Linked DNA regions of Homo sapiens. The protein of the gene in region 1 interacts with the protein of each later gene in a biochemical or structural test. Each region holds a gene or a part of one and is shown in the gene's direction. Other genes may lie near its edges.

Evidence for each region.
Region 2: the proteins of AGTR2 (region 1) and AGTRAP form a complex in vitro, tested with the Homo sapiens proteins (one study listed by BioGRID).
Region 3: the proteins of AGTR2 (region 1) and ZBTB16 form a complex in vitro, tested with the Homo sapiens proteins (one study listed by BioGRID).
Region 4: the proteins of AGTR2 (region 1) and SNTA1 interact in a test that uses a peptide from one of them, tested with the Homo sapiens proteins (one study listed by BioGRID).

Annotation. Positions count from the first base shown.
Region 1 is NC_000023.11:116,166,560-116,173,749, forward strand, and holds the start of AGTR2 (type-2 angiotensin II receptor), read left to right. Parts: upstream 1-4,184; 5' UTR 4,185-4,257; intron 4,258-4,408; 5' UTR 4,409-4,468; intron 4,469-5,686; 5' UTR 5,687-5,721; coding exon 5,722-6,813; 3' UTR 6,814-7,190. UniProt on the Homo sapiens protein: Receptor for angiotensin II, a vasoconstricting peptide. Signals primarily via a non-canonical G-protein- and beta-arrestin independent pathways. Cooperates with MTUS1 to inhibit ERK2 activation and cell proliferation.
Region 2 is NC_000001.11:11,731,329-11,739,148, forward strand, and holds the start of AGTRAP (type-1 angiotensin II receptor-associated protein), read left to right. Parts: upstream 1-4,807; 5' UTR 4,808-4,880; coding exon 4,881-4,907; intron 4,908-7,820. UniProt on the Homo sapiens protein: Appears to be a negative regulator of type-1 angiotensin II receptor-mediated signaling by regulating receptor internalization as well as mechanism of receptor desensitization such as phosphorylation.
Region 3 is NC_000011.10:114,244,705-114,251,726, forward strand, and holds part of ZBTB16 (zinc finger and BTB domain-containing protein 16), read left to right. Parts: intron 1-2,493; coding exon 2,494-2,661; intron 2,662-5,621; coding exon 5,622-5,851; 3' UTR 5,852-7,022. UniProt on the Homo sapiens protein: Acts as a transcriptional repressor. Transcriptional repression may be mediated through recruitment of histone deacetylases to target promoters. May play a role in myeloid maturation and in the development and/or maintenance of other differentiated tissues.
Region 4 is NC_000020.11:33,433,756-33,440,777, reverse strand, and holds part of SNTA1 (alpha-1-syntrophin), read left to right. Parts: intron 1-1,751; coding exon 1,752-1,937; intron 1,938-7,022. UniProt on the Homo sapiens protein: Adapter protein that binds to and probably organizes the subcellular localization of a variety of membrane proteins. May link various receptors to the actin cytoskeleton and the extracellular matrix via the dystrophin glycoprotein complex.

The DNA of each region.
Region 1 (7,190 bases):
GTACTATATCAGTTTTGAGATAATTTGATTGACATGAGCCATCACTGAGAGCCTGGGTATTCTGAGAAAGTTCAATATCTAGACCTAAAGCTCAAGGACCAAACTCTAGCTTAACAATTTGTTGATCCACTGCCCTATGAGAGTTCTAACCTGACAACATCTCCCCAAAACATCCCCCCAAAACATCCCCATCGCCTAAGAGTGGTGTTTAAATATTTCCAAGACAGCTTGTTGGTTTGGCCAATTTAGTCAATTGGCAATTTTGGATAATTTAGTCAAGCTATTTAATTTAGTCATATCAGTGGGAGAAATGTCAAATCATTTAGCTGATATTTGGAATGTAAACAAAAATATAGATAATTTTCATTTAAAATTTTTTTCCACCAGTTGGGTTATATAGCATTTGAGGATAGAACTAGGGTGCCTTTTGCAAGATTCTAGTCTGAACATGGTGCTCAGGCCTGAAGCTGTCTTTGGGGCAAAGGGAAATTAGAACTCTCCCTTCTCCTTATGTTCTTGGGACCAGATTCAGCTGGAAGCAGCTGGTCTCAAGAATGTACTGAGTCTGACATCCATTCATCTCACTACATCAGTTTCACCTTAACTTACTTAATAGTCCTCTGTGTCACTTTTCATGTGATGCGTAGACAAAGAGGTAGTTTGATGAAAATAATCACTCATGTTGGGCATTTCACTGAATTTTAAGCTGGTTTCTACAAAATGGCCAATCTGATTGTTATTTCTGAATAAAAGACCTTATTTTTTTTTCCATTTGCTTTAATTGTGACATTTCACAGACAGGCACAAAAATAATATGCAAAGATTCATCAATAATGGGCAATCTTCTTAACTACCCTCCTTTTAGAGACCCCCAGGTTAGGAAAAGTCCAGTGACAATTAAAGCAAGGCTACTCTATGGGTAAGTGAATTAAAGAAAAGTTGGTATAAAGTATGTACGTGGGTACATGGGTATGAATGGTGTGTGTGTGTGTGTGTGTGTGTGTGTTGAAGTTGAGAGAAGTGGCAATGATATTGGCACTCAGTGTGGTGGCTGGGGTTGGGGAAAGTTAAAATGACTCTGAGAGACCTAGATTAAAAAGGAAGACCCATATATATTAAAATCATTCCGTAATCTGTACCTCTAATCTTTACCTCTATAACCAGGGCACTATGTCTAGAATTTTTACGCATTTTTGCATTTATGTATTTCTTTTCTCCTTTGAAGTTTCATCTGTGTGTGTGGGTGGAGGTGAGGCGGCAAATAAAATTTGTTCTGAACTCTGTAACCTTCTAGCAGAGGAAGAATTTCTCTCAAGAACATTTACTTTTTTAGCTTAGTCCTTTAAAATTTACTGTTAAGTAATCTCACAATAAACAACAGGTATTCATTAGAAAAAAATTAATTTAATGTGATTTACTATTTAATTCTGCTAGCTCAGCTACACTTGTCCTGCAGAGCTGCATAATTTATTCAAATGGCCTGAAACTTTTTAAGTAAGTCTACCAGCAGAAAAATTATTCCCTACTCCCAGGAGAATGAACTTTTTGTGTTGTACTGCTTCCCAGGACTGACACTTATTTGACTCTCAAGTGTATTTACATTGTTGGCTTAACTGGGAGTTCTTTGCTGAATCAATAATATACAGTATTTCTTCAAGTGGTGTCAATATTATTGCTATTCTTTTTATAAACTTTTTGTTAATTCTCTGCAGTTACAAAATTTTTCTTTGACTTGTGAAAAAAATTACTCCTAAGATTATGAAGACGCAGAGTAAATGGCCCTTTAATCTTCTGGGAAATATGTACCTCTTTAAACTTTATTTATGTCAGAACTTACTGTAATGAAGGACAAAAGCTCTAGACAAGGTCCCCTGTTCCTTGTGGGTGTTCAAGGCTAGGTCTTCCGGAGACAAGCCTGTAGTTTGTTCTCATAATTTTATAGCTCACCTCCTGGCTGTTTCTTTGCAAGGGGCCTAAGAGGGTACAAGAAAAAGAGCAGGGTGAGAATCTGACCCATTGTGACCACTCGGGAGGCCCTGGCCTGGAAACTTCCCCTTTATGTGGCAAAAACAAACATTTGAAATGGAGGGAGAAACCAGGTTTAAACAATGAGTGAAAACAGTTTCCATCTCAGCTTTCCTGCTGATAAACATATGTGCCCCCTCATTTGTTTCTGAAACATAAGTTTTCCATCATTTTAACAGAGCCTCAGCCTCAACTGAATCTGTCCAGAGCATAGGAAACAAATATTTTGAGATTTAGTAAAATGGTGCATACATATATTAGGGGCATTTTGACAATGTTCAAACTGTTTACCAAACAAACTTTATGATGGCCTATGCAAACCTTTGAATCCTACTGTATTTTTCACATAACGATGACTTCTCACTGATCTCATCTGCCTGTGTGCTACAGTATTGACTTTAATATTAATGGAGAAACAGACAGATATCAAAAGCCATGTGATTTGTCTCATGCCATTTGCAATTTTGTCTTCTGTCATCAACACTGACTTCTCCTTCCTTGTTCTGCTGAACTCCATACTTAGGTGCCCAGCTACTTCCTCAGAGCCTGCCCTCATTCTTTACCTGTGGCCTGCAGCATGGACAGGTGCATTCTTGCTGCTTATCTGAAAAATATGATCCACAGAAATAACTTGAATCTTTTTGCCCATTTAAAATGTGCTCTAGGTTCTCTGGTTCTCTGTACTAACTATAGAAAGCCATCTAGTCACAAGTTTCTCCTTCCTGTGGTCTCCATTTGGGCAATACAATTAAGAAAAATACGTTTCCCCACATAACAATTCTTCCAATTCTTTTCCCCTTCTTTGATGCTTTTATGATAGATTATGAATGGTCATCAGTGATTTTCTGTAAATGCCACGTTTCCTTTTTGCCAAGACAAAGAGTGAGACTAAGGGACCATCTAGTGCTTCCTCTTGTGGTATAGAGGCTAAACAGCGTGAGTTCTGATATTAGTTTCCTTTGATTTAAATGCAAGTGTCTTCATTTAATAGCTGTATGATCTCAGAAAAGTTATTAAACTCTATGAGTCCTAGTTTCCTGATTTGTAAAGTGGGGGCTAATATGAATAGCTTGTAATAGCACCTACCATATGCTAGGCATGATTTTAGGCACTTTAAACATATTAGCTCATTTAATTTTCCATTAGCTTATTTAAAATTCCTACTCTACGATGTAGGTAATTTATATCATTCTCCTTTCTCAGATGAGAAACTGAGACATGAAGAAGTAAAGTAACTTGGCCAAGGTCAGAATTAGTAAGTGGTAGAGCTGGGTTTGTAAAGCCAGGTAGTTGGATCCCAGAGGCTATTTACTAACCAGTGTGCTATATTGCCTCTCTATTAAATTATTGATGATAAATAACTCATCACAGTGTTCGGCACATAACATTTATTGTCAGCTAGTATTATCACTACCATCACCTGTTCTTATCTTTCTTCATTTTGTCACTCTTGCTTCTGCTGGATTGGTTGTGTAGTTTATTGCCCCCACTGCCACAAGAGACAGCAGCAACAGTGATCTAGGTTGAAATAGCTAGCGAATCCCTCTTCACTTTATGTGCTTTGTATTTAAACCACAAATATGACAGAGACCTATGAAAGGAGACTAAACCTCTTTTTGGTCGTGTAAAAATTATATTCCTGCAATCTCCAACCCTCCAGCAACAAGCCAACAAAAACTGCGCAAAGCAAGGGAGAAATTTTAGAAGTGGTAGACTTCAAGTAAAATTCCTACCATTCTTTAATAAACAGGGGTAAAAATTTCAGAAAGTAATGAAGGTTGTGAAAGCTGATGAACAAAGACTTTGCTACTATAATAAATTTCCTAGTCTCTACTCACTAATTTCTATTAGAATGCCAATATCAGGAAAAAAGGAAGAGAAAATTCTGTAAATAATTACTATATTTTTCTCCTACCAAGTAAGCCACTGACTTCAAAATTCTCTAGCACATTTGTGGAAACTTCATTTTTTTTGTTTGAGATTTATTTGAATGAGCTGTTATGATTGGAGACAGTGAGAATTTCAGATTAATGTTTTGCAGACAAAAAAAAACCTCTCTGGAAAGCTGGCAAGGGTTCATAAGTCAGCCCTAGAATTATGTAGGTTGAAGGCTCCCAGTGGACAGACCAAACATATAAGAAGGAAACCAGAGATCTGGTGCTATTACGTCCCAGCGTCTGAGAGAACGAGTAAGCACAGAATTCAAAGCATTCTGCAGCCTGAATTTTGAAGGTAAGTATGAACAATTTATATATAATTTACTTGGAAAGTAGAACATACATTAAATGAAAATATTTTTTATGGATGAACTTCTGTTTTTCCTGTGTTTTAACACTGTATTTTGCAAAACTCCTGAATTATTTAGCTGCTGTTTCTCTTACAGGAGTGTGTTTAGGCACTAAGCAAGCTGATTTATGATAACTGCTTTAAACTTCAACAACCAGTAAGTCTTCAAGTGGAATTTATTATTGATTCTTTTATGTTAATTTGTTAGGTCAAAAGAAAAATCTTTAGAGCAAAATAAAAGTTTTGCTCTTTATTAGGAGGTTCTTTAGATATTACACTTTTAATTGGGTAGCTTATTTGCATGTATTTTGAAACTATCTAAAGTAAATAGTGTTTCCTTTGTATGCTTATCTTTAGCTAATGTGTTTTTTTTTTTGGTTTTAAAATAATGCTTCTAGTGAAAAAAATCACAAAAACCTCAACACTGTAACGTTTGAGAGCAACGGCTATTCAGTTCGGTTAAACCGAAAAGAGAGAAAAAGAAAAATGATAAGACTATATCATGATTAATCATTGATGTTCATTTCTCATTTCACTGAGCAATCTAAACTACTTCTACTTGAACCTAACATAGGTTTGGCTGTTTTTTTCTTTATCTGATTTAATTGAAAATGGATTGTTTAGATATTAAATAGACCAAAATTAGATATCTATATCTAAAACTAATATTCTCTATTAAAAGGAGAAGACTTAGAAATATAAATATATTTCATAACTTCTTCTTAACTATATTATTATTGTGAAAACAATAGAAAAGTAAAACTAAAGGAATTATTTTTAATTATTAAAGACAAACCATGATTCCCCATCACAATATGTTCCTTTGGCATATTCTCTTTTAGTTTTTTATATACTTATTTTTTCCATTGCTTATGTTACTTATATTTTCCACAGCTGTAGTGATTTGTATGTAATTAGTTACTTAAATAGAGCATTTCTCTATGCAATAGCAAGCAGCAGTGTGGTTTCTAGAAAGTATACAAACAGAGATATATGCTCAAGTGTTTTTTGAAAGATTAACTTTTCTTACCTCTGGGTTTCTTATTTGTTTCACACATTTCCTGCCCTGACTAATCTTTTGAAATATTAATTTTCTTTAAATCTTTCAAAAACATCATAGAAAAGATGGGCAAAAGGTAGTTTTATTCAGAACTTTGAATCTCTGAAATGTCTTTTTTCTACTATCAGGAAAATTATTTCTCCTTTTTCAAGAGGTAAAATGAATTCTTGTTTTACAAGCCATGGCTCTGTTTCTTAATGTTTTCTATAATCACTCACTTTTTTTTTGCTTTTGACAAACATTCAAAATGCTAATGATTCAAGGATGTCCTCAGCTCTGTATGTGTTCTAAGAGTTCTATGTTTTTTCTCCACAGAAGGCATAAGAACTAGGAGCTGCTGACATTTCAATATGAAGGGCAACTCCACCCTTGCCACTACTAGCAAAAACATTACCAGCGGTCTTCACTTCGGGCTTGTGAACATCTCTGGCAACAATGAGTCTACCTTGAACTGTTCACAGAAACCATCAGATAAGCATTTAGATGCAATTCCTATTCTTTACTACATTATATTTGTAATTGGATTTCTGGTCAATATTGTCGTGGTTACACTGTTTTGTTGTCAAAAGGGTCCTAAAAAGGTTTCTAGCATATACATCTTCAACCTCGCTGTGGCTGATTTACTCCTTTTGGCTACTCTTCCTCTATGGGCAACCTATTATTCTTATAGATATGACTGGCTCTTTGGACCTGTGATGTGCAAAGTTTTTGGTTCTTTTCTTACCCTGAACATGTTTGCAAGCATTTTTTTTATCACCTGCATGAGTGTTGATAGGTACCAATCTGTCATCTACCCCTTTCTGTCTCAAAGAAGAAATCCCTGGCAAGCATCTTATATAGTTCCCCTTGTTTGGTGTATGGCCTGTTTGTCCTCATTGCCAACATTTTATTTTCGAGACGTCAGAACCATTGAATACTTAGGAGTGAATGCTTGCATTATGGCTTTCCCACCTGAGAAATATGCCCAATGGTCAGCTGGGATTGCCTTAATGAAAAATATCCTTGGTTTTATTATCCCTTTAATATTCATAGCAACATGCTATTTTGGAATTAGAAAACACTTACTGAAGACGAATAGCTATGGGAAGAACAGGATAACCCGTGACCAAGTCCTGAAGATGGCAGCTGCTGTTGTTCTGGCCTTCATCATTTGCTGGCTTCCCTTCCATGTTCTGACCTTCCTGGATGCTCTGGCCTGGATGGGTGTCATTAATAGCTGCGAAGTTATAGCAGTCATTGACCTGGCACTTCCTTTTGCCATCCTCTTGGGATTCACCAACAGCTGCGTTAATCCGTTTCTGTATTGTTTTGTTGGAAACCGGTTCCAACAGAAGCTCCGCAGTGTGTTTAGGGTTCCAATTACTTGGCTCCAAGGGAAAAGAGAGAGTATGTCTTGCCGGAAAAGCAGTTCTCTTAGAGAAATGGAGACCTTTGTGTCTTAAACGTGAGAGCAAAATGCATGTAATCAACATGGCTACTTGCTTTGAGGCTCACCAGAATTATTTTTAAGTGGTTTTAATAAAATAATAAAATTTCCCCTAATCTTTTCTGAATCTTCTGAAACCAAATGTAACTATGTTTTATCGTCCAGTGACTTTCAGGAATTGCCCATTGTTTTTCTGATATGTTTGTACAAGATTGTCATTAGTGAGACATATTTACAACCTAGAAGTAACTGGTGATATATCTCAAATTGTAATTAATAATAGATTGTGAATAATGATTTGGGGATTCAGATTTCTCTTTGAAACATGCTTGTGTTTCTTAGTGGGGTTTTATATCCATTTTTATCAGGATTTCCTCTTGAACCAGAACCAGT
Region 2 (7,820 bases), on another chromosome or scaffold:
TGAGCCCAGGAGTTGGAGGCTGCAGTGAGCCAAGGTTGCACCACTGTACTCCAGTCTGGGTGACAGAGCACCTAGAGGGCCCTGTCTCAAAAAAAGAAAATAAAATGCATTTAATACACCTAACCTACTGAACATCATAGCTTAGTCTAGCCTACTTTAAACATGCTCAGAACACTTACATTAGCCTACAGTTGTGCAAAATCATGAAAAACAAGCCTATTTCATAATAAAGTGCTGAAAACCCTATGGAATTTATTGAACACTATACTGCAAGTGAAAAACAGAACGGTTATACTGGGGACTGGAAATATGGTTTCTACTGAACGCAGATCGCTTTCGCACTGTTGGAAAGTAGACAAATCATGTCAGACCATTGTAAGTTGGGGAGTGTCTGTACTCACTCAATACATGACCCCAAGCCTTGTGGAATGCCACGTGGGGGTCTATTATGTCCTTCCATAGCCAAGAATAGGTCGTGGCAGGAACTCCGGTTCCTTTGAGGATACCGACAGTTTCACTTTCTTTTGTTTCTCCGTGCTTCCCACCTCCCCGCATCCCCCCAACCCCACCAGCCTGCCAAGCCCGCCCAGCCAGCTGGGTGTTCTCGTGCTCTCCTCCCTCCGCCTCTGGCCCCAGCTGGTGGAGATGAATACAGTGTCAGTGTCTGAGCCACAGGGACGTTCCACAGGCCCAGCCTTGTGCTGCCTTCCGATCCTTGTCTTCTCCTACTTGCTTCACTCTATCCTTCTCATTTCAGCCCTGGCCGGATTTTTCTGCTGTGTGGTTACACGTCAGGGTCCTGGAGCCAGGCTTCCTGGGTCCCACCGCAGTTCCAGCAGCAATTAGTGCTGTGCCTGCAGCAAGCGGCTTCACTTCTGTTGATTTCAGTTGCCTAAGTGTAAACAGGAATAAGAACAGCGCGTGCCATAGTTCTGTTGTGAGCATTTACTATGAAGAACTTTCTTTTTTTTTTTTTTTTTTTTTGAGACAGGGTCTCGCTCCGTCTCTCAGTCTCTCAGGCTAGAGTGCAATGGCAGGATCTCGGCTCACTGCAATCTCTACCTCCTGGGTTCAAGCGATTCTCATGCCTCAGCCTCCCGAGTAGCTGGGATTATAGGCATGTGCCATCATGCCCGGCTAATTTTTGTATTTTTAATAGAGACAGGGTTTCACCATGTTGGCCAGGCCGTTCTCGAACTCCTGACCTCGGGTGTTCCACCCGCCTTGGCCTCCCAAAGTGCTGGGATTATAGATGTGAGCCACCGTGCCTGGCCCACTATGAAGCCCTTTCACACTGTCTGCCACACGACAACTACTGTTGGGGCTCAGAAAATGTCACCCCAATATCTGGTGCTTTGGCATGCTAAGTACTATGAACTACAGAAGACTGGAGGCCTCAAAAGCAAGGTCTCTGTGACGCCCTCCTGACCTCCTGTCTCCAGCCCCTCCTTCTCCCGTGAGGCAGTCACAGAACAAGAATTCCTCCTTTGGCAGGGGATGAGGTGACTCAAGTCTGTAATCCCAGCACTTTGGGAGGCCGAGGCAGGTGGATCGCTTGAGCCCAGGAGTTTGAGACCGGCCTGGGCAACATGGCAAGCCCTGTCTCTATAAAAAAAAATACAAAAATTAGCCAGTCATGGTGGTAGGTGCTTCTAATCCCAGCTATTCAGGAGGCTGAAGTGGGAGGATCACCTGAGCCCAGGAGGTTGAGGCTGCAGTGAGCCATGATCACACCATTGCACTCCAGCCTGGGTAACAGAGCAAGACCTTGTCTCAAGAAAAAAAAAAAAAAAAATCCTCCTTCTCCAAGGTGGGTCACAGAAACTAGAACCCGTGTCTCCAAAGTAGCCATAAAACCTAGAAAGGTGGCTCTCTCCCTTCTCTCTTTAAAGACCTCATTACAGAGGGGTTCTACCTCATACCCAGGAGGAAGGAATGCTGCATGGAGAGCCCAAGAAGAATCTGGACAAGACTTGTTCATTTTCTTTTTATCCAATTGCATTGCTACAGGGCTGTTCATTCTTCCTTGAAACTAAGCACAAAAATGGACAGATTTCCCAGGGCCTTTGAGTCTTCATCTCTGAAGCCTCCCATGTCACATGAAGCTTTGCTTAACTAAACTTGGTATGCTTTTCTCTTGTTAAGCAGTCTTTTTTTACAGGAGTGTCAGCTGTGACCTTTATGATGGGTGAGGAAAGGTATCACACCCTTCCGCCCCTACAGGGTCCTGTAAATGTCAGTTTAGTAAATGTCAGCTCTAATCCTAGGAGTTGTTTTGCGGTTTTTTTGTTTTTTTTTTGACATGGAATCTCACTCTGTTGCCCAGGCTAGAGTGCAGTGGCAGGATCTCGGCTCACTCCAACCTCCACCTCCCAGGTTCAAGCAATTCTCCTGCCTCAGCCTCCCAAGTAGCTGGGACCACAGGTGCACACCCCCATGCCTGGCTAATTTTTGTATTTTTAGTAGAGACGGGGTTTCATCATGTTGGCCAAAATGATCTCGAACTCCTGACCTCAAGTGATCCACCGGCCTCAGCCTCCCAAAGTGTTAGGATTACAGGCTTGAGCCACCGTGCCCGGCCTGTTTTTCATTTTCTCCTTACAAAGTGATCACAACTTTATTATATACCTAAAGGCTTGGATTAAATCCCTCTAGAATCTGGAGTGTATGGGAAATATTTTTTAGAAGGAAATTGATCAGGCTGCGCACTGTGGCTCACGCCTGAAATCCCAGCACTTTGGGAGGCCGAGGCGGGCAGATCACCTGAGGTCAGGAGTTTGAGACCAGCCTGGCCAACGTGGCAAAACCCTATCGCTACTAAAAATACAAAAATCAGCCGGGCATGTTGGCACCCACCTGTAGTCTCAGCCACTCAGGAGGCTGAGGCAGGAGAATCACTTAAACCCGGGAGACGGAGGTTGCAGTGAGCTGAGATCGCGCCACTGCACTCCAGCCTGGGTGACAGAGCCAGACTCCATCTCAAAAAAAAAAAAGATAATAATAACATAATATTCTAATATTGACTGCTTACTGAGAAATTACTCTCTTCTAAGTACTTTACTAATAACAATAATTAATTACCAATAATGAACTAATAATAATAATAGCAACCAGTCCTAAATCAAACTGGATGTAGCCATTTGGCTGGTCTCTAATTTACCCCTAGACTGGGGGGATCTGTGCCTCCTAAGAGGGCATTAAGTTAGGCCTATGGGCCCTGCAGCCCTGCAAAACTCTCCTCATCCATCCAGAGAAACCCTTTCTTTGCATCTGGAGAGACTATGGGTCTTGGTATTATCTAAGGACTCACCCAGGCAGTTTTGTAGGTTCCCACCTGGTTTCCCCCACCCTAGGAATAAGACCAAGTGCTCAGGTGTACCCTGAAGGTTTCCATACCTAGGTGACACTAAACAAAAGCTGGTGTTCTCTAAAGGAAAGTTGATGTTAGGAAGGGACCTGGAGGTAGAGCGGATTAATGTTCTTGTTGCGGTGGGGGGATGTGGTGGTCAACAATCTTTAAGGGAGGTGCCAGGTGAGGCAGGAGACAGCCCTTTCTTTCCTCATGTACAATTGGGGGAGGAATTTCTTATGGTTTTTCAGCTAGAGTTTTCTAAAACTTTTGGTATGCTGATTAAAGTGGGCTCCCACCAATTTGGCTCCTCAGGTGTTGCTTTTTGTTTGTTTGTTTTTCCCAGACAAGGTCTCACCCTGTCGTCCAGGCTGGAGTGTAGTGGCGTGATCTCGGCTCACTGCAGCCTCCCCGGTTCAAGCAATTCTCGTGCCTCAGCCTCCTGAGTAGCTGGGACTGCAGGTGCACACCACCATGCCCTGCTAATTTTGGTATTTTTAGTAGAGACGGGGTTTCACCATGTTGGCCAGGCTGGTCTCGAACTACTGAGTTCAGGTGATCCACCCTCCTTGGCCTCCCAAAGTGCTGGGATAACAGGGGTGAGCCACTGCGCCCAGCCTCATCTTGTGTTGGTAATAACAATAGCTTGTGTGTCCTGCCCATTTACTAAGTGCCGGGCACTGTTCTCTCCTAGAACAAACCGTAGTTAGACTCCTCTGAGTCCTCATCTTGACTAGGCCTCGGCCTTGGACCTCTGTGTCTTCCTGTCCTTGCTGGGCCTGAGCCTGCATAATAAACCAGTTTCAGCAAGAGTCCTGCTAAGTTAGCAAGAACTCCCCCATCCTTGATGTCTCCTCCTAGGAATCTTCCATTCCTGCTCCCTCATTCTGCTCTGGCTATAAATCCCTCCTTGGTCCTTGTTGTATTCGGTGTTGAGCCCAAACTCTCACTCCATGGCAATAACCCTACAGCAAGTCTTGAACAGTACTGGTTTAACAACAGTCCCAATAACGTTTTCTTTAACAACAGCAGTTAGCTCATTTAATCCTCATAAGGATCATATGAGGTAGGTAGCCTAAATAGCCCATTTACACAGGGAAGTGGGAAGGAGAGAGGGTGCCCCCAAGGATGAGACACAAGCTGTTGCCACATCAGCACTTTGCGCCTGGACGGTCCCCCAGTTGTCCTGGCTGCAGGCAGTCCGAACAGTCCGCTTCCTGGAATATTAGCCAGGCAGGATACGCCCTGGGCGACAGAAACTCCAACTTTCGCCAGCGGCCCCCAAGTACTGCCTGGGCGGTGGCGGGAGTCTGGAGCTTGGCTGAAGGCGCGAGCTGCCGACGCCGTCTCCTAGCAACCAAGCGGCGGTCACGTGACCCGCTCCAGCCCGTTTCACGTGGTCTTGAGCTGCGCTGGGGTTGGAGTGGCCGCAACGGGCGGGGCGGGGCGGGGCCGGGCAAGTTTGTTCCCCGAGTTCGGAGCCTAGGAGCCCCCCGCGGCTGCGGCGCAGGTGCCCTCGGCCTGAGTCGGGATGGAGCTGCCTGCTGTGAACCTGAAGGTGGCGACGGGCTGGGGGGAGGGTCCCCTTTGCGGGAGGAAGTGGGACATTTGCATTTTCCCGGAAGGTGGGAGGAAGGACCGGAGTTTTGGGGAAAGAGGGATGGTAGGGAGGAAGGGAAGGTACAGACCCCACGCAAGAAGGAGATGGGCAGGCAGGCCACAGCAGGGAGAGTGATCCAGGCACAGGCCAGCAGGGCGACACTGAGGGGCCGTGGGAGGTGGCAGCGGAGGGCAAGGGCCGCCCCCTCCCGGACTCAGACCCTCCCAGCGGGCAGCGCCGGTCCCAGCATTGCTGTTGCCTGCACGCCCAGAATTCCCCTGGAGGAGGAGGAAGGTGCGCGGGAGGGGCTTGTAGGCGGCTCACCTCCCCCGCGCGGGGTCAGGGACTGGGCTTGCCCCCCGGGTCCCAGCACCGTTTCAGGAGCCTCCTTGTTTGCTAAGTCGGGTTAAGGAAATCAGATGTTCCCAAGCAGTTGGTTTTATAAAGTTTACACATCCAGCGCCCTTATTTCATAATCAAGAAGCGCGAACTCCAACAGAAATTACTTAAAAGCAGAAAACCCCAACTTTGTGCACTGGGGAAAACACTGCAGGGCTTCCTGTGGTGTCTTCATTTCCCGAGCCGTGAGCTCAGTCCGGGTCTGGGTGCCAGCGGCTGTTCTTTTTCTCCCCGCCCAGCCCCGCCGCCCACGTGTCTGGGCTCCATTTGCATTAGAGGGGCTAGGGGCTGTAGTTTTGGTCAGGAAGGTGTGGACCTTGGACCAAACCGGCCATTTTGGGTCTTAGTGCAGCCTCCTTTGAGGCAATATCCAGGAATGTCCTCTTACTCATGAATGACAGAGCATTTAGCTCCCTGTTGGTGTCTGGGACTAAAGGAACCTGAGAAATAGATGGTTACAAAACAATGGCTTAATACACTTTATTATTACACAACATCTGTGCTATGACTTGCTATAGGCATGTTTCCCTTCTTAATCATACTTGCTTCAGCAAACCTTCCTGAAGCTTCCAGTCAAAGGTGGTGGGGAGACATGGCTGGAGCAAGGGAATGGGCTTGGATGGAACGTTCAGCTGGGAAGAAATTTACGTGACAGCAGCCGAGGCTTGTTGGTATCAATATGCACTCTATTCCAGGCAATGTGGGGTTAACACCAACTGCCTTTTCTCTGATGAGGGATTTGCTTAAAATAATTGCTGACAGAGGATCAGGTGAGGGCAGTGGGAGGGACAGAGCTCTAATTTATGGGCTTCTGTGGTGTGCCAGGTTATTTAATCAAGGCAGCCTTATGAGAAAGCTGATATGGTCATCTTTTTACAGATGAGCAAACTTCAGCTTAGACTGGGTAAATTGCCAAGGTCCCACGGGGAGTAAGTGGCAATATCAGGATTTGAACCCATAGGGATCAGACTCCAGGGCCAGGTCCTTTCTGGGGTACCAGCTTAGGGCTGACTTTAACGTTGGCTGTTTCTGTCCTTTGGGAGGGCTTAGTCTCTTTGGGGCTTTTTTTGAGCAACTTTTTGGGCCTGACAGGCTAAGAGCATCCACAGGTATGAGCTATGCTGGCTTTCGGTACCCAGGATGAAAAGGCTGGTCCTCCCCTTGACTTGGCAAACGAGACCCCAGTCTCCAAGGGTGTTAGCCGCTACCAGTCAGAGACAACAAAGTGCTGGAAGGCCCTGAGGGGTCAGGGTTGTCAGGTCGTGTACAGGAGATCCAGGTGAATTTGAATTTCAGATCAACAACGAACAGTTTTTTAGTATGAGTAAGTCTCAGGCAATATGTGGGACATATTAACAAATTATTCATGATCTGATATTGGAAATTAACTGGGTGTTCTGTATTTTTGTTTGCTGGATCTGGCCACCCTGTGGAGGGCAGCTGTTGACTCCTTGCTTATAGGCACTTAGGGGATGTTCTGAGTTCAGAGCCCTTCAGGAGGTGGGGAACTGCTCCCTGTGGCCTGCACTCCCTCCCCACTCCCTCGTTTTGTATATTCCTTGGGCAAGGGCTGAGTGCCTGCTTCTGCCCAGCTCAGCCAGAGTGGGCAGTGGTGCCAGGTGAGAAGAAACAACTGCCCCAGGCCCTTTGCACAAAGGGCAGCTCCTGACCAAGCCCTGTCCATGTCTCTTGAAGCCAGGTCCTGAGCTGCAAGAATGACATTGTGATGAGCTTAGAAAGGACTGGACTAGGGTACAGAGGTCTTGTGGGAAGAAGACCTTGGGAGGAGGATCTGGTGGTCTAGGAGGTAGTCGTGTAGCATTTGGGTTAAAAACTCAGTAATGAGGACTGCTGGGATGGAGGGCTGAATTCCTCACAGGCACTGTGTGGAGCGCTTCCCACACCTCTCCACCTCCCTGTACCACTGGATCCACACAACAACACTGAATCAGGCAGTATTGCCCTTCTTTGCAGAAGAGCCAACAGCTGTTCTGAGAGGTCAGGTGACTTGCCTAAGGTCACTAGGTTCTAAAGTCATGGAGCCAGGATCAGATCCACCTGTTTGCCTCCAGTACCCACGAAGTTAACCGCTGCACAACTCTGCCTCCCATCCTTGGCAGCCCTGACTGGTGTCCCTGGGCCCCGGCCACCCTGGGGGATCTCACTAGCACGTGTAACAGGCCACCAAGTGTTTGCACAGGACTGGTAGGAGTTTATTCCATTTCTGGGAAGTCCTACCCCGCCATGGGTCCTCTAGTGGCAAACAAAGGGTTTAAGTCTTGGTCTGCATGCCCTGCTGGTTTCTCTTCAGCCTTTCCTTCTCCAGGTTAGACTTCCTCATTTCCATCTGCCCTCTACGGCTCTTCGAGATCCTGACGGTGTAGCACAGTGGACAGAGCACAGGCTTTGGGGGCAGGCAGGTCTGCATTCAAGGTCTTGAGTAGGTTTCTGTGTGACCTTGAGTAGGTTTCT
Region 3 (7,022 bases), on another chromosome or scaffold:
CCTATTTAAACTCATTTAACATGTGCTCCACTTCATAATTAAATTCCTAAAAATCGGATCAAACAAACTCCTCTGTCTTAACCCTTTGTTTTTTAAATTGTTAGGGACCCCTCTGGAGGGGAAAGGCACAGGCAGCCGCCCCCTTCCCCCCCACCGCCGCCTTCACCCCCACCCGGCTGGGTGGCTGCCGATGTACGTTTTAATTACCGGCTCCAGCTGAAGTCTCACGTGGCCTTGGCTTTATTTATTTATTTATACCTTAATGAGGATACTGAATCTTTGATTAAAGTCGTAATCGTTGCCGATTCAGTAAGGAGGGGGAGTTGGATGTCAGACCAGACAGGGCTGTGAGTGCAGACACACGGAGAGAGTGGGTTCGGGTGCACACACAGACTGGCCCTTACTGTGTTAGACACACAACTAATTAGTACCAGGGTCTGCACAGGCCTCCACTCCCTTGAGTTTGATGGGGCTGGGGGCCAGGCAGTCCGCATGGCTCTGGCAGTGAGGATGGGCAGGTAGCAATTTCCCCAACTGAGAACCCTGGGCCTTGGCCCATCCCCAGATCTGCAGGTGAGGGACTCGCTGGCCGAGCCTCTGAGCCAGTGCAACACCCCATAGATTGGGGTGAACTGGTGTCAAGGCACGATGCCACTCTTTGAGCTTCTCTCATCTGATTCCCTGATGGAAGTGCCCCTCTCATGGCATGGGTGCTTCTTGCAAATCTTCCACCCATGAGAAAGTCACTGATCAGACCCCAGCATCCGCTCCCCTCAGAGCCCTAAAAACCCCTCAGAGCCATCAGAACAGATGAGAATTTATGTGGGTACAGGGGCCTAACTTTGGGAGGGGGGAGCTTTGGTTAGTGGCCCGAGGAGGGGAGAGACAGGAGAGAGTAAAATATCATTTTAAAAAGGAAGTGAAGGCACAGGCATGCGAGTCTATAACGAGAAGGACAATTTATGCCCAGGCACGAGCGCAGTTTGACATGGGGATAATGCAAAAACGTAGGTCATTGTGGATGACTTAAACCTTCAGCAGCTGAAGAAAATGTATGAAATGCAGAGGACATTACACGGTTGGCAGCCCCGCACATCTGCAGAGGGACAAGTGAAATACAGTGGGCCATTCTTTACCATAAACTGTGGTTGTTGGAGATGCAGCCCAGAGAAATTGTAATTACAGTGACAAGACGAATCAGCGATATTTAAATATTCATGAACAAAGTCTGGGGTGATCAATCTATCTTTATTGTCTGCGCCTTCACTCCTGTAATAAATAAGTAGCTGGAGTCCTCACCTTTCATCCCCCAAGCCCCCCACTTTGGATATGAAAGGCAAGATGGTTATTCTCCACACCCCAACCTCTCATGCTCTGGAGATTTAAGAGTGGGATCCTCAAAAAAGAAAAGGCAGTTCTCTCCAAGTTTCATAGACCCACCATTTCCTGGGTCTGTTCTGGATCCTCCCTGTGCGATACACTGAGGCTACAAGGATGGGTGAGGCTTGCTTCTTATCCTGGTGGTGCTTCCATGCTGGAGGTATGGTGGGCAAGCCAGTAGATACAGCATAGTGTGTCAGCAAGCTGACAAGTATATGGTACCCTGACTCTAGAGCCAGACCCAAACCTGAATCCCAACTCAGCTCCTTACTTGCCGTTTCACCTTAGGGATGATGTGGAAGCATCTCATTTTTTTCTCAACTGTAAAATGAGACTAATATCTTTCTTTAAGTTTGTTGCCATGATCATCTGATGCGATCACATCACACATCTGAGTGCTCAGGAAATGTAGCCCATTTTAATGCGAAAGTGGCATAAAAATGATACCACACTAATAACAGAACAAAATTCTGGGCATTTCTTCTCTTTGGGGACACAGAAGAAAGTGTGATTCATTCTGCCTGGGGAACTAAAGGGAAGCGTCCACGCGGGGGTATCATATGAGCTGGGCTTTGAAGGATGATTAGGAGTTCACCAGGGAGAAAAGAAGAAATCGAGCAGAGGAAACAGCTATGTAAGACTGTGGAGGAAGGAAATTGGGGACTGTAGAAGGTGTTTGGGGGACAATGTGAAGTTCCTCAAATTGGAGAGATTTCTTTGAAGGTTGGGGAGTCAGGCTGGAGTGACTTTCACCCTTAACCTAAAGGAAGGGGAGAAGAGGTCATCTGAGAAGCAAGATGGTGAGGTCTCATGTATCCACAAGGGGGCTTGCTTTCTGGGGACTGCTGTCCATCCCTGAACCAAATGGGCTCTCTTTCCCAGGACTGGCCCTTGCCCCACAGATGATCATGGGGCCACAGTAAAGTATGGTCATGTGTGAAGACAGGTATTGCTTGTTTATTCAATGGAGGTGTGGCCGTGGATCCTTAAGTTGTCTTTGGAGGTGGTGAATACAGGCCGTCGCATCCTTCTCATGCACAGAATGTGCCCTACTGTCCCCTGAAGAGGGGGCAGGGAGAGGCAAAGGCCTGATCCAGCCCCTTGTCTCCACAGGCGACCACCCCTACGAGTGTGAGTTCTGTGGCAGCTGCTTCCGGGATGAGAGCACACTCAAGAGCCACAAACGCATCCACACGGGTGAGAAACCCTACGAGTGCAATGGCTGTGGCAAGAAGTTCAGCCTCAAGCATCAGCTGGAGACGCACTATAGGGTGCACACAGGTACCGAAGGCCAGGGAGGGGCCTGAGCTGGCTCTGGGACCTGGGCGGAGGTGGGAAGCAGATAGTCTCCTAGAGAAGCCTAAGTGAGGATGATCCCAGGCTGAATCAAAGAGTAGAAGAGGTTCTATTAAGAGCTGGTATGGTGGCCTGAGGACCACCACACCCCAGTCAAGGTGGCCTGAGGGCCATCAGTCAAGGCCAAGGCAGACATTACTAATCAATCCCAGCACACTTTCCAGTGAGCCCCCATCAGCCCTCCAGGCAGCTATACCAGTAGTTCAGAGGTGACATGCAAAATGATGTCTGTATATGAGTCCTGAATTAGGGGTAAGTTGGTCCAATTAGCTGAAAGTGAAGGTTAGGGTAATTTCATGTTACTCAAGGGTTAGAGTAAGAATTAGGATACATTGAATTAGGTTGTTATGAAGGTTGGGAAGTTGTAAAGTTAGATTGTGTTTGGTTCTGAGATTAGAAGAGCAGATATATTTAATAATCCCTATATGCATATGATGTTTTACCACTTCAGAGTGCCTTCACATTTTTTTTTTTTAGACGGAGTTTCGCTCTTATTGGCCAGGCCGGAGTGCAGTGGCACGATCTCAGTTCACTGCAATCTCTGCCTCCTGGGTTCAAGCGATTCTCCTGCCTCAGCCTCCCAATTACCTGGGATTACAGGTGTGTGCCACCACGCCCAGCTAATTTTGTATTTTTTTTAGTAGAGACAGGGTTTTGCCATGTTGGTCAGGCTGGTCTCGAACTCCTGACCTCAAGTGATTCACCCGCCTCGGCCTCCAAAGTGCTGGGATTACAGGCGTGAGCCACCGTGCCCATCCACATTATTTTTTGTATTGGAAAAAGAAATGTGGGCCACTGTTTTCCCTGAGGTCAAAAGACAAAACAAGTGAAGGGTCTTCCACAGTTTCCCAAGTTGGGGGCAGTGAAGTCCTGGAGCTTGCTTGTGAAAGCTAATTTTTCACATTTCTTCACAACTTCAAGTTCAGTGACACCACCTTAGTTGCTTAAAATTGGCCACTGTAGGAGTATTCACATCATAGCAATCAGCAGATGCTACAAACCAGGGCTTTTTGGAAAGCCAGTCATGAAACATTTACCACCAGCACACTGCTGGTTGTGGGGAAGGTTGATTTACAGAAGGGTGAGAGGTGGTGGAAGCTGGAAAACAAAGACGCCCCCTCTGATCAGGGGAGACAGCTGTCCTGTCCAGAGGAAGGGGGAGAGGTGGCTTCAGGCAGGTCCTGCTGGCTTAGAGGAGAGTACGTTGCCCTTGGAGGGGAAGGGTGGACAGAAGGAGCAGTAAGCAGAGCTATGTGTTGTCAGAGCTCGTTTTTCGTGTCCCAGTTTGAGCCCACAAGGAGAGGGTTGGGTGTCCGTTGATGACAACTATAGTGGCCCAGAGGATTTCCCAGAGCCCTGGGGTTTCCTTAGCCCCTTGTCAGGGATGTGACCTGGCAGGTGGATCATTAACTGTATTGGCAGTGACTATTGTAAATAGCTGGTCGATAGTTAGATCACTTTGGCTGTTCATTACTTCATTATTTGCTGGGGCCTGTGCGCGGGGGAGTATTGATAGCGAGATGGCTGGCCAGTTAATTACTGTATTGAAACAAGGTTCCCTTACATCCTCTGCTCAGCTCTAGGGGACTCTATGGAAGGAAAGTTGGGGTATAGAACGCTAGGGTGTGGCTGTGCACTCCCAGGTTCTTTATCCCTCCCATCCCACCCCACCCCCAATTCCAGCCTCAGGAGGGAGGCAGGGTCCAGGGCAAGGTCTTAGCGGTTTTAGCAGGATAGGCCGGGTGGGGGAGCTCATGCCTATAATCCCAGGACTTTGGGAGGCCGAGGCAGGCAGATCACTTGAAGTCAGGAGTTCAAGTCCAGCCCGGCCAACATGGTGAAACCCTGTCTGTACTAAAAATACAAAAATTAGCCGGGCATGGTGGCGGCACCTGTGATCCCAGCTACTTGGGAGGCTGAGGCAGGACAATCACTTGAACCCGGGAGGCAGAGGTTGCAGTGAGCTGAGATTGCACCACTGCATTCCAGCCTGGGTAACAGAGTGAGACTCCATCTCAAAAAAAAAAAAAAAAAAAAAAAAAAGGCCGGGCGCGGTGGCTCACGCCTGTAATCCCAGCACTTTGGGAGGCCGAGGCGGGTGGATCTTGAGGTCAGGAGATCGAGACCATCCTGGCTAACAAGGTGAAACCCCGTCTCTACTAAAAATACAAAAAATTAGCCGGGCGCGGTGGCAGGCGCCTGTAGTCCCAGCTACTCGGGAGGCTGAGGCAGGAGAATGGCGTGAACCCGGGAAGCGGAGCTTGCAGTGAGCCGAGATTGCGCCACTGCAGTCCGCAGTCTGGCCTGGGCGACACAGCGAGACTCCGTCTCAAAAAAAAAAAAAAAAAAGAGAGCTTTAGCAGGATAGGTGTCCCCAGGTGCAGCATATTTGAAGGACTGGGTTCCCTCAATTTCCCCCCACCCCTGCTCCCCACCATCTGTAGCCCTGAAAGGTCTCGATCCACCTGCTCTCTGGACGGAACTGTGGCTTGAAGAGCCATTCCTGAGGACTTTGGGGCCTTTCTCTTTCTAGACACCCATTTTCTTAATTAGAAAGGGAAAAGACTGTGGCCTTGGGAGAGTTAAGAATAGTAAGACAAGGAGCTGGGCAATCCAGTAGTCAACTAGCTACATGTAGCTATTTAAATTAGTTACAATGAAATAAAATTAGAAAACTGTAGAGCTGCAGTCGCACCAGCCTCATTCATAGCCATGTGTGACTGGTGGCTGCCGTCTTGGGTGGTGCCTTCATTGTCCCAGAAAGTTCTGTTGGAGCAAGCCCAGCTGGAGGAACCCAGCTTCCCTGGCACGCCTGAGGGTGACATGGTGCCCTCACCGCCTTCTGTCTGTCCTCACTTTCTCCTGCCCTGTCCCTCCGCCCTCAGGTGAGAAGCCCTTTGAGTGTAAGCTCTGCCACCAGCGCTCCCGGGACTACTCGGCCATGATCAAGCACCTGAGAACGCACAACGGCGCCTCGCCCTACCAGTGCACCATCTGCACAGAGTACTGCCCCAGCCTCTCCTCCATGCAGAAGCACATGAAGGGCCACAAGCCCGAGGAGATCCCGCCCGACTGGAGGATAGAGAAGACGTACCTCTACCTGTGCTATGTGTGAAGGGAGGCCCGCGGCGGTGGAGCCGAGCGGGGAGCCAGGAAAGAAGAGTTGGAGTGAGATGAAGGAAGGACTATGACAAATAAAAAAGGAAAAGAAAAAAAAAAACAGAAGGAAAAGGAAACCTGGTAGCTTTTTGGCCTTGGATTCTCTCTGGGCTCCAGATGACCTGGATGCCAAGCCACTGCCCCTCCTCTGGGGGCCTCCACCCTCCTCTCCCGGCTGGAGGTTTGCCTGATTTTCTGGGATGGGGTTGGGTATTTTGTTCACTCAAATGGTGGCACATTTTTCTCCTTCCTTCACCCAGACCTTCTTTTATGTGTCCAGAAATGGAGGCTAGAAAGCAGGTGAGAGGTCCTCTGGTCAGAGCCACACGGTCTGTGCCGGCCTTCCTCCACCAAGACCCCCAGGAGATGAAGGGAGGGAGGAGGTGAGCCAGAAGGGCGCTCCCCTGCTGATGGGTCTGGGCTGGGTCACTAGCTGCTCAAAATGGCAGCTCTAGTTTGCTGGCGGCTGACTGGGGAGGAGAAGGGCTCTGTTTCTCTTCCCACCACTCAGCCCACCTGCTGCTTTCCTCTGCTTTGCCACATCTGGGTGTCCCCCGGTGGTCTCTGAGAGCCTCAGGACCCCTGCCCCTCCTCCAGCTCTTTGTTCCCAGCCTCCCCTTGACTCCTGTCCTCCAAGTCCCAGGGGAGTCCCAGCCCCTCAGGGACCTGGCGGTGTCTCCATCCTTCTCCGGTTCCCTAGTGGGATAGCTGCCTCTGACTTCAGGGTCCCTCCTACCCTCAGCCTTCTGAGAACACAAAACAAATCCAATACCCCACCCTAGTCCAGCACCATCGTGAGCAAGATTCCTGCTGCGCTGCTTCCAAAATGGAAAAGCATCACAACTAAATACCTAATATCCTACCAAACAAACCACAGTCCCTACGTAGCCCTACTTCAGTCCCAGGAGAAGGAATCCATGAATGGGCTGAGGTTCCGAGGGTAGGTTGTGGATGTCTTTCTCTAGAGGGGTCCCACACCTGGAAAAGAGGACACCCAGCCCGTGGGATGAGGGAAGCTGGGCAAGGGAGAAAGTTGTTGAGTCACACTGGGGACCCCAGATGTAGTGAGCTCAGCAAGAAAAGCCAGGTCCAGAGAGAGTCGCACAGAATTCCTGACTCACAGCGCC
Region 4 (7,022 bases), on another chromosome or scaffold:
GGTGCGATCTCGGCTCACTGCAATCTCCACCTCCTGGGTTCAAGCAGTTCTCGTGCCTCAGCCTCCTGAGTAGCTGGAATTATAGGCACACACCGCCATGCCTGGCTAATTTTTGTATTTTTGTTTTATTTTGAGATGGAGTCTTGTTCTGTCGCCCATGCTGGAGTGCAGTGGTGTGATCTTGGCTCACTGCAACCTCCACCTCCTGGGTTCAAGCAATTCTGCTGCCTCAGCCTCCTGAGTAGCTGGGACTACAGGCATGTGCCACCAGGCCCAGCTAATTTTTTGTGTTTGTATTTATTTATTTATTTATTTATTTTTTGAGATGGAGTTTCGCTCTTATTGCCCAGGCTGGAGTGCAATGGTGCAATCTTGGCTCATTGCAACCTCAGCCTCCCGGTTCAAGCAATTCTCCTGACTCAGCCTCCCGAGTAACTGGGATTACAGGCATGCGCCCCCATGCCCGGCTAATGTTTGTACTTTTAGAAGAGATGGGGTTTTGCCATGTTGGCCAGGCTGGTCTTGAACCCCTAACCTCAGGTGATCTGCCCATCTTGGCCTCCCAAAGTGCTGGGATTACAGGCGTGAGCCACCACGCCCAGCCATATTTTTTTATTTGTTTATTTTTTTATTATGTATTTATTTACTTTTTTGAGCAGAGTTTCACTTTTGTTGCCCAGGCTAGAGAGCAATGGCGTGATCTCAGCTCACTGCAACCTCCGCCTCCTGGGTCCAAGTGATTCTCCTGCCTCAGCCTCCCGAGTAGCTGGGATTACAGGCATCCGCTACCACGCCCAGTTAATTTTTTGTATTTTTGGTAGGGACAGGGTTTCACTATGTTGGCCAGGCTGGTCTCGAACTCCTGACCTTAGGTGATCCACCTGGCAGCCTTGGCCTCCCAAAGTGCTGGGATTACAGGCATAAGCCACCGCACCTGGCCCTTTTTTGTGTTTTTAGTAGAGGCAGGATTTCGCTATGTTGGCCAGGCTGGTCTCAAACTACTGGTCTCAAGTGATCCGACCACCTTGGCCTCCCAAAGTGTTGGGATTACAGGTGTGAGCCACTTTGTCCGGTTATTTTCATTTTTAATTTTTGTGCGTACATAGTAGGCATATATATTTATGGGTTACATGAGAAAATCGAAAACATTTAAGAAAAAGTGATTGAAGCACTTTGTAAGTTGCACAAACACTGGTGAACACCCAAAGCACTTAATCAAAAGATCCAGGGATCAAACTATAGCATTATGAATTTTGAAAATGATTTATTTAATTAATTAATTTATTGAGACAGGGTCTCCTTCTGCCACCCAAGCTGGAGTGCAGTGGCACAATCTCAGCTCACTGCAGCCTCGACCTCCTGGGCTCAAGTGATCCTCCTACTTCAGCTTCCCTAGTAGCTGAGACCACAGGTGCCTGGCTAATTTTTGTATTTTTAGTAGAGGCGGGGTTTTCCCATGTTGCCCAGGCTGATCCTGAACTCCTGACCTCAGGTGACCTGCCCACCTCAGCCTTCTAAGGTGCTGGGATTACAGGCATGAGCCACCGGACCTAATCAAAAATGATTTATTATTAGTGTTACTAGTGTCCCAAACTTCCAAGATTTTTCTCAGATTCCCTTTATTCTCCCATTGCCTTTTCCAGCACTGGGCTAGGCACCAAGGGAAGCCTTCAGAAATAATTGTGTCTTGATGTGACTCCCAAGTGTTGGAGTATCTGCCTAAGTCTTGTCCTCCTTCTGTACCTGTGCAGGCGGCCGGGAGAACAAGATGCCTATTCTCATTTCCAAGATCTTCAAGGGATTGGCAGCTGACCAGACAGAGGCCCTTTTTGTGGGGGATGCCATCCTGTCTGTGAATGGGGAAGACTTGTCCTCTGCTACCCATGATGAGGCGGTGCAGGTCCTCAAGAAGACAGGCAAGGAGGTGGTGCTGGAGGGTAAGCACTGACGTTCCAGGGTTCAGAGGGGCTGGGTGGAGGTGTTCCACTGCTTCTCTACCTCCCCCAGGCCTCAGAAGGCCCCATCCCAGCACTGGGGGCTGGGAGGTGGGCAGGACTGAAAACAGAAACAGAATTTGGGGACCTGCCTGAAGACAGTGTGGGGTGGTGGAGGGAGAGTTGGCATAGAGCCAAGCAGACCTGATTTGCATTTTCTGTCTTCCAGTCACTAGCTGTGTAGCCCTGGACAAGTCACTTCATTTCCCTGATCCTTAGTTTCCTCATTTGTAAAACAGGGATGTAGCTCCTGCCTTTCTGGGTTGTTGCGACTAGGGCAAAAATGTACATGGCAGAGTGTGCCAGCACCTGAGTGACACAGGGAGAGAGGGGTGCGGACTGGGGAAGGGGCAGGTCAGATTCTTTCCTGTGGGGCCTGGAGAGCTCTTGACTTCAGGTTCTTTTAGTGCCTGGGCCTTAAAACCCCAAGACCCATCCTCCTTTGGGAGAAGCCTTGGCTTTTATTTTACTTTATTTTTTTTTTGAGATGGAATCTTGCTCTGTTGTCCAGGCTGGAATACAGTGGCATGATCTTGGTTCATCGCAACCTCTGCCTCCTGGGTTCAAGTGATCCTCCTGCCTCAGCCTCCCAAGTAGCTGGGATTACAGGTGTGCGTCACCATGCCCAGCTAATTTTTATATTTTTGTAGAGACAGGGTTTTGCCATGTTGGCCAGGCTAGTCTTGAACTCCTGGCCTTAGGTGATCCACCCACCTCAGTCTCCCAAAGTGCTGAGATTACAGGCATGAGCCACCACGCCCAGAGGCCTTGGCTTTTATAGAGTAGGACATCAAATCCTTCCAGCCAGGATCAGAGAGGAGTTTTGTGGAGGAACCTTGGTTGAATGGCTTTCTCCACTGTTCCCTCACAGTGTGGTCTTGGGTGGGACCCTTGCCCTCTGTGGGCCTCGGTTTCCCCATCAGTTGTTACACGCCTCCTGCTGAGGTTGTCCCATGACCATCTTGTGCCATGTCTCTCAAGAGGTTTCTGCTTTGCTCAGCCCTTTCCTCAAACTCTGTCAGCTCTGGAAGCCCCGTGGGGGCCTGAGGAATGTGTCTCTGGCTTATGGCCCAGAACAGGCACAGGGAGGTGGCGGGGGCTGATGGAGAATAACACGGCCAGAGAAGCTGCTGAGTTGAGTCCCAGGCCCAAATCCTGGTGGGTTGCCTTGGTTTCCCTAAAGGAGTGTCCAAGAGGCCACAGAAGCAAATAGGTTCTCGGTCCTTGGTTGACCCAGATATAAAATAAAATAAAATTTAAATAAAGAAAATAAAATGTAAAGTTTTATTTTATATTTTAGGTATATCTATTTAAATGCCATGGATGCATTTTTTTTTCTTGTTTTTTTTTTTTTTCGAGACAGGGTCTTGCTCTATCACCCAGGCTGGAGTACAGTAGTATGATCTTGGCTCAATGCACCCTCCACCCCCCGGGGCTCAAACAATCCTCCCACCTCAACCTCCTGAGTGGCTGGGACTACAGATGCATGCCACCACACCTGGTTAATTTTTTTTTTTTTCTGAGATGGAGTCTCACTCTGTTGCCCAGGCTGGAGTGCAGTGGCATGATCTCGGCTCACTGCAACCTCCGTCTCCCGGGTTCAAGCAATTCTTCTGCCTCCGCCTCCTGAGTAGCTGGGATTACAGGCACCCACCACCATGCCCGGCTAATTTTTTTATTTTTAGTAGAGATGAGGTTTCACCATATTGGCCAGGCTGGTCTCAAACTCCTGAGCTTGTGATCCACCTGCCTCAGCCTCCAAAAGTGCTGGGATTACAGGTGTGAGCCCCTGCGCCTAGCTTTTTTTTTTTTTTTTTTTTGAGATGGAGTCTTACTCTGTCGCCCAGGCTGGAGCAGTGGCGCGATCTTGGCTCACTGCATCCTCCGCCTTCCAGGTTCAAGCGATTCTTCTGCCTTAGCCTTCCGAGTAGCTGGGACTACAGGTGCGCACTACCACGCCTGGCTAATTTTTTTTTTGTATTTTTAGTAGAGACAGGGTTTCACCATATTGGCCAGGCTGGTCTCGAACTCCTGACCTCGTGATCTGCCTGCCTCGGCCTCCCAAAGTGCTGGGATTACAGGCGTGAGCCACCACACCTAGCCAATTTTTTGTAGAGACAGGGTTTCACCATGTTGCCTGGGCTGGTCTCCAACTCCTGGGCTTAAGGGATCCTCCCACCTAAGTCTCCCAAAGTGCTGGGATTGCAGGCCACAGTGCCCAGTCTAGATGCATTTTTTTGATACTTAAAAAAAGCTGACTCTAGAGTGTTGATCCTTAGAAGCTTAAGTGTATCAATCATATTTTAATGGCAAAGTTAAATAATAGAATGCCACATAAATGATATGGATATAAGAGACTTTCCCCACATGCCTCATTACTTTGATATTTATAGTCAGCAATGCGGTTTGAAACCACTGACATTCATCGAAATGTCATATTTTAGTTGACTTGAAAGCTCTTTTAGCTTCTGTTGTTTGAAAGTTTAGTCTATGGTAAAATTTCTGCTATAGACACAATTCAAATCCACATTCACACGGAGGTCCCCTCACCTCCTCATCTTTATTTTTTATTTTTATTTATTTATATTTTTGAGACAGAGTCTTGCTCTGTCACCCAGGTTGGAGTGCAGTGGCGGGATCTCGGCTCACTGCAAGCTCCGCCTCCCGGGTTCACGCCATTCTCCTGCTCAGCCTCCCAAGTAGCTGGGACTACAGGTGCCCGCCACCACGCCTGGCTAATTTTTTGTATTATTAGTAGAGATGTGGTTTCACCGTGTTAGCCAGGATGGTCTCGATCTCCTGACCTTGTGATCTGCCCGCCCCGGCCTCCCAAAGTGCTGGGATTACACGCGTGAGCCACCGCGCCCGGCCCACCTCCTCATCTTTAGATTAAAAATGTATCTATCTGGGTTCCCATGTATGTCGTTTTGAGAAGGTAGTATCTGTAAATGTGTGACCTTGAAGCATCTTCTGACTTTAGGAGTGAATACTCAAGCCTTCCCTCTAACTCATGTCATGCATTCCTCCTCACTAAGCCAAGAGACATTCATGGACATCTACTGTGTGCCTGCTGTGTATATTAAGGTCAGAAGCTAAACTACACCCAGGGCCTCTCCTGAAGGAGCTCACCATGTGGTAGGGTAGACAAAACATAAACACTATCTCCTCTACACAAACTGTGTTTTTTTCTTGAGGCAGGGTCTCACTCTGTTGCCCAGGCTGGAGTGCAGTAGTGCGATCTCAGCTTACTGCAACCTCCTTCTCCCAGGTTCAAGCGATTCTCTGCCTCAGTTCTGTAGCTGGAATTACAGGTGTGCACCACCACGGCCTGGTTAATTTTTGTATTTTTAGTAGAGACAGGGTTTTGCCATGTTGGCCAGGCTGGTCTCGAACTCCCGGCCTCAGTGATCTGCCTGCCTGGGCCTCCCAAAGTGCTGGGATTACAGACGTGAGCCACCATGCCTGGCCTACAGAAACTCTTTAAAAGCCGGTGGCTAGGTGCTGTGACTCACGCCTGTAATCCCAGCACTTTGGGAGGCTGAGGCGGGTGGATCACCTGAGGCCAGGAGTTTGAGACCAGCCTGGCCAACATGGCGAAACCCCGTCTCTACTAAAAATACAAAAATTAGCTGAGCCATGGTGGCGCGTGCCTGTAATCCCAGCTACTCAGGAGGCTGAGGTAGGAAAATCTTGAACACGGGAGGCGGAGGTTGCAGTGAGCCGTGATTGTGCCGCTGCACTCCAGCCTGGGCGACAAGAGCAAGAATCCATCTCAAAAAAAAAAAAAAAAAAAAAAAAAAAGCTGGTGCCTGAAATCCTGTCTGCTCTGCAATAAATCTCTGTTTGGCCTTGGGTAAGACCCTTGCCTTCTAGGGGACTCAGTTTTCCTATTGAAGTTAGGCTAGATCAGAGGTGATCAATAGCTTTTATTTAGAGTGGCAGCTCCAGGCAGGCGTGGTGGCTTACGCCTGTAATCCCAACACTTTGGGAGGCTTAGGTGGGCAGATCACTTGAGCCCAGGAGTTCGAGACCAGCTTGGGCAACACAGTGAGATTTCATCTCTGTAGGAAAAAAAAAAAAAAGAGTGTAAGCGTCAGCTCCACTGGTGGTTCTGTGAGTTCCATATTTGGAAGGATTGGGAGGCTTTGTCTGGGCTCAGCAGAAAGGAGCTGGAATTGATTAGCAATGTCTACTACAGATGCAGTAGAGAAGTAACATGTGTATCATCCCAGGACTGAGGGGCCCCTGCTCTTATATTCTCTGAGATGTTTCACAGGACGAGATCATTCCTTGGTGAACCCTGCCTATGGCCTGGGTAAGAGAAAGAAGAATGTGGCCTTCATGTTTTTCCCCACTTTTCCTTAGTTGAAGTCTTTTTCGACCTATTCTCCTGGCCCAAGATCTCATGGAAGGAGGTCATTCCACTCAAGATAGCACAAAGAGGGGAGGAGGAGTGGTGGAAGGCACTGGAGTCAGGAATCTCTGAATGGCAAGAGTGATCAGAGAGGTCTGAAGGATAGGAGGATGCTGGGCTGTGGCTGGTCCTTGAGACTTTGGGGAGTGGAGAAGGTCTGGGCCTGGCAGTTGCACCAGTCTGGAGCAGCCAGGGTTCCTGGGACCCTCTCTGGGCCTAGGTTTCCCCGGAGTTGAATCACTGACCACATTGTTCAACATTTCCCCACTCACATCCCATTACTGAGGACGCCTCCAAGGGGCCATGGAAGGATGGCCTGTCCTTTGGATGTGAACTTGGCAAGGCAACTGGATATTTTTCCAGCTCAGTGGATAGTGAATCCCCTGAGGATGTCCTGGGAGAACAAGCATTACCAGCAAACTCCAGGTGTCAGCTAGAGCCTTACTTCCCTGGCCTAAGTTGGGGGCTCAGCTGAGCCTCAGCAACCCCAACCTGCCTCCTAGAACATTTCTTCTACTAGGTCAGGGGTTTGCAGAAATGTCCTGATCCTGTTCTCAGCCAGAGGGGTGTGTTTGTGACCACAGTCTGGGCCCAAGTTGGCAGCCAACAAGTGT